2 separate regions of the Homo sapiens genome follow, and region 2 is linked to region 1. Evidence: fine-mapped expression QTL. Tissue or cell type: whole blood. Region 1 holds a variant in brackets; the other region holds the start of a gene. All regions are shown on one strand. Distances are between the middles of the regions.

Region 1 (2,756 bases):
CACGGCCTGAATTCAGTGGTGAAGCGAGAGCTGTGGTCAGCACGGCCCTGGCTGCCAGAACTCCTGGCTGGACTGCCCGCCCTTCTCTGCCTCCCTGGCTCCAGACACATCCCTTGCTCAGCCCTGGTCATGTGACACAGAGGCCATCTCTGGGTCTGTTTGAACCACCAGGGCACCGTCTCCATCCATTCATCCTTTCCACAGACACTAACACTGAGGGCCTGCAGTGGCCCAGCCTGTGCTAGGGGCTGGGGGAAACAGTTGGCAAATGAGACCTGGCTCCTGCTTTCATGGTGCTGACCACCCCATCTTTCTTGTATCAAAAGCCCCAGGCCAGGCTGGGCGTGGCATGGTGGCTCATGCCTGTAATCCCAGCACTTTGGGAGGCCAACATGGGTGGATCATTTGAGGCCAGGAGTTTAAGACCAGCCTGATCAACATGGTGAATCCCCATCTCTACTACAAATATCAAAGTTAGCTAGGTGTGGTGGTGGGCGCCTGTAGTCCTAGCTACTCGGGAGTCTGAGGCAGGAGAATCACTTGAACCTGGGAAGTGGAGGTTGCAGTGAGCCGAGATCGTGCCACTGTACTCCAGCCTGAGGGACACAGCAAGACTGTCTCAAAACAAAACAAAACAAAAAAACCCAGGCCAGATGTGATGGCTCATGCCTGTAATCCCAGCACTTTGGAGAGACCGAGGTGGGAGGATCACTTGAACCCAGGAGTTCCACACCAGCCTGGGTAACACAGCGAGACCCCATCTCTAAAAAAAAAATTAAAAAAAATTAACTGTGTGTAGTGGCGTATGCCTGTAGTCCCAGGTGCTTGGGAGGCTGAGGTAGAAGGACCACTTGAGCCCCAGAGTTGGAGGCTGTGCAATGAGCTATGATTTCACCACTACACTCCAGCCTGGGCAACAGAGTGAGACTCTGTCTCTTAAAAAAAAAAAAAAAAAAAAGGAAGGAACCCCAGCACCCAGCAAACTGGATTTCAAAGGGAATTTATTCAGTTTGCTGCTCAAATAGGGAGTGGGTACACGGAGAGAGCCCTGTGCTGCAGCAGCACGGGCGGGC[G/A]GGGCAGTGGGGAGAAGGCCTACCTTCCGTGTTCTGGATGATGCGCTCCACCAGCACTGGGTATTTGGTTATGCGTTGTGTAACCAGGAGAATGCACTCCTGCACGCCAAGCCGCCGCACGATGGAGAAGTTGCCAATTTTCTAGGAAACAGAAAGCAAGATCCTGTATTAACATCTCAGAAACGGACAGCAAGATCCTGTATTAACATCTCAGAAACGGACAGCAAGATCCCGCATTAACATCTCGGAAATGGACAGCAAGATCCCATATTAACATCTCGGAAATGGACAGCAAGATCCTGCATTAACATCTCGGAAACGGACAGCAAGATCCCGCATTAACATCTCGGAAACGGACAGCAAGATCCTGCATTAACATCTCAGAAAGGTACAGCAAGACCCCGCATTAACATCTCGGAAACGGACAGCAAGACGCCGCATTAACATCTCGGAAACGGACAGCAAGACCCCGTATTAACATCTCGGAAACGGAAAGCAAGATCCCGCATTAACACCGTGGAAACGGACAGCAAGATCCCGCATTAACATCTCGGAAACGGAAAGCAAGATCTTGCATTAACATCTCGGAAACGGACAGCAAGATCCCGCATTAACATCTCGGAAATGGACAGCAAGATCCCGTATTAACATCTTGGAAATGGAAATGGAAAGCAAGATCCCATATTAATGTCTTGGAAACAGAAAGCAAGATCGACATTCACACCTCGGAAATGGAAACAGAAAGCAAGATCCTGTATTAACATCTCGGAAATGGACAGCAAGATCCCGTATTAACATCTCGGAAACGGAAACGGAAAGCAAGATCCTGTATTAACATCTCGGAAACGGAAACGGAAAGCAAGATCCCGCATTAACATCTTGGAAACGGACAGCAAGATCCCGTATTAACATCTCAGAAACGGACAGCAAGATCCCGCATTAACATCTTGGAAATGGACAGCAAGATCCTGTATTAACGTCTTGGAAATGGAAACAGAAAGCAAGATCCCATATTAACATCTCGGAAATGGACAGCAAGAGCCTGTATTAACATCTCAGAAACAGAAAGCGAGATACCGCATTAACAGCTCGGAAATGGACAGCAAGATTGCGTATTAACATCTCGGAAATGGACAGCAAGATCCTGCATTAACATCTCGGTTTCTGCCCAATTTGTCAACAATCGGCTGCCAAGGCTGGGGGCTCCTTCCTTTCTCAGCTCACCAGGACCTTTCCTTTGCCACTTTGGAGGAGACAGACACCAGATACCTGAACGCAGGGATCACCTGCTGTATATACAAAGGCCACCAAAGGACAGATGTGGTGGTTCATGCCTGTAATCTCAGCACTTTGGGAGGCCAAGGTGGAAGGAATGCTTGAGACCAGGAGTTTGAGACCAGCCTGGGCAACACAGCAAGACCCCATCTCTACAAAAAATTAAAATATTAGCTGGGCATGGTGGCACACTCCTGTAGTCCCAGCTATTCAGGAAGCAGAGACAGGAGGTTTTGCTTGAGCCCAGGAGTTTGAGGCTGCAGTGAGCCATGATTCTTCCATTGCACTCCAGCCTGGGCCACAGAGCAAGACCCTGACTCTAAAAAAATAAAATAAATGAGAACCAGCCAGGGGGTTATTATGGAAATCATCTGTCAAGCTGTCCACACACACAATGTACACATGAAC
Region 2 (2,621 bases), 100 kb after region 1:
CATCCTCTCTGGCCCCAGCTGTCCACTCTAGCTCAATTCACTCCCTCCTGGTTCTGGGGCCACCTTCCTAGACCTCAGGGTGCCTGAAGCCTGCCCTGCAGCATTGGGGGCTGGCAGGAAACAACAGACTGGGTGTGCCCAGCAGAAACCGCAGCCTTCCTCCCCCACCCCTCCCAGTCCCAGGCAGGCGGTGGTGCAGGAGGTCCCCCTAAGAAGGGGCCACGAGAGGAGACAGGGGATGTCTCCCAAGGGGGAGAACCCTCACCTGGAGGAAGGCTGCCTGGGTGGAGGGATGTGCTCTCTGGATGATTTCAGATCAGGACAAGACCCTTCTCAGGGCTGGTTGTCAGCCATCAGCCTTAAGTGTGAGTTTGTTTTGACAGTGGATTCAGAATCTGCAACAGGGAGGTTCTTGGGGGGCCCGGAATCTGCAGTTTAAGATGCAAAGGGCACCTGAGCCTTTGCCCCAGCTCCCCCATTCATTCTCTGTCTCCTGTCTCCACGCAGGAGGGCCTTGGCTACAAGGAGCTCTATCGTCCTTTCTTTGCTTTTCTTTTTCTTTTCTTTGTTTTGAGACTGAGAGGCTCACTTCAACCTCTACCTCCCGGGTTCAAGCCATTCTCCTGCCTCAGCCTCCCGAGTAGCTGAGATTACAGCTGCCCGCCACCACGCCTGGCTAATTTTTGTATTTTTAGTAGAGACGGGGTTTCACCATGTTGGCCGGGCTGGTCTCCAACTCTTGACCTCAAGTGATCCGCCCTCCTCAGCCTCCCAAAGTGCTAGGATTACAGGTGTGAGCCACCGCGCCCGGCCTCCACCCTCCTTTCTTACCTAGCAGCCCCTCAAGGATCCCCGTCCCCTGGGGTGACCTCTTATGACCACAGATCTCTGCACAATGAACGCAAGGGTCAAACAGCTTCCCCCACCCACTCAGGAAGCAAGTTGACTGCAAGGGGGAGAGAAACAGTGATGTATGTCTGCTCGCTGTCCCCCTAGACTTCCCAGACCCCACTGCCACTCTGTCCCGATGGGTCCATCTCTCTCCACTTCCCAGGATAAGTACTTACCAGATAGAGCTCAGTTCTTCAACCTGCAGGCACCTAGCCTGGCTAACAGCTCCTGCAGCTCCCATGACCTACGGCCAGCGTTTCGAGCTGGCCCAAGGGAACCGCTGGCTGGGTAGAGCCTGGGATAACCACAGAATGACCCAATAGCACCTCGACTTCCTCTTTCTCAACTGCCTGCCTGCATGCTTGCCACTCTGCTCCCAGCTGCAGGCCAATCTAGGGGCCTAAAAAGAGCCCAGAGGATGGGGGTTCTGGAGGCAGAGAGCCCTGCTCCCACCCCTCAGCCCTGCGCATGCAGGTGTCTTGAGGAGGAGGGGTGGGGAGCTGGAGGGAGGCCCAGCGTCCTCAACCCCCACCCCAGCAGCTTCCTGTGGAACCAACTGCTGAAGAGGAACAGGGTGTGGGGGCCTCACCCAGGCACATGGGTGTATAGACAGCAACATATAGGGACGTGCAGGTCATGTGTATCCGTAGAGACTCAGGCACCCAGACACACACCAGCATGGTGGGTACACACAGAGAGACAGAAACACACGTGGCTACATTGTTACATGGGTACCTGGAAGCTGGCGGAACAACATGGTGTGCTGGTAACGTTTAACAACCACCTCTCCGATTTGTAGCCATTGCCAATTCTCCTGGTGTAAATACCCCCAGCATGGCCGATTTCACCTACCAGTGTGATGTCACCGAGTGTGGAGTTGATAGGAAATGCTCAGATTTGGCTTTTTTTAGAAAACAACAACAACAACAACAAAAAACTGTTTATTTTATTTTTAGAGATAGGGTCTCATTCTGTCATCCAGTCTGGAGTGCAGTGGAAAAATCATAGCTCACTGCAGCCTCAATCTCTTGGGCTCAAGTGATCCTTCTGCTTCAGCCTCCTGAGTAGTTGGGATTACAGGCACATGCCACCATGCCTGGCTAAGTTTTTTGTTTACAGATAATTTATGTATAATTTATATATACTTTATATATAATTATATATGGATTATATATAGACTTATATATAATTTATATATAATTTTTTATATATAATTTTTCTTTTGAGACAGGCTCTCACTCTGTCATCCAGGCTGGAGTGCAGTGGGGGTGATTTTGGTTCATTGCAACCTCCATCCCCTGGGCTCAAGTGATCCTCCCACCTCCGCCTCCTGAGTAGCTGGGACCACAGGCACACATCACCACGCCTGGCTATTTTTTTTTGGTTTGTATTTTTAGTACAGACAGGGTCTCACCATATTGCCCAGGCTGGTCTCGAACTCCTGGGCTCAAGCAATCCTCCCACCTTGGCCTCCCAAAGTGCTGGGATTAGAGGCACGAGACATGGCGCCCAGCCTAAGTTAATTTTTTTTTTTTGTAGAGACAGGGATTTTATTATGTTTCCCAGGCTGGTCTCAAACTCCTGGGCTCAAGCAGTCCACCCGCCTTGGCCTCCCAAAGTGCTGGGATTACAGGCATGAGCCATGATGCTCCACTAAACTTGGCTCTTGGGCTGGCTTCAGCCTGTCACTGGAGTGAGTACTCTACAAAAAATTTAAAACTTCGCCACAT

The links. PIP is the estimated chance that this variant, and not a neighbour inherited with it, causes the effect.
Region 2: it holds the start of ARHGEF18, and the variant in region 1 is fine-mapped to the expression of ARHGEF18 in whole blood (TOPMed, PIP above 0.99).

The regions. Positions count from the first base shown.
Region 1 is chr19:7,449,607-7,452,362 of GRCh38, reverse strand. ARHGEF18 (Rho/Rac guanine nucleotide exchange factor 18) reads right to left here. Exons shown (of 29, transcript NM_001367823.1): 16 at 1,097-1,214. Among named protein-coding and RNA genes, the nearest start is that of PEX11G, 38 kb to the left of the region's middle. RefSeq lists enhancers at 1,016-1,558, 1,559-2,103. The variant G/A (reference allele first, on the strand shown) is at 1,074.
Region 2 is chr19:7,347,688-7,350,308 of GRCh38, reverse strand. ARHGEF18 (Rho/Rac guanine nucleotide exchange factor 18) reads right to left here and starts at 1,372. Exons shown (of 29, transcript NM_001367823.1): 1 at 1,068-1,372.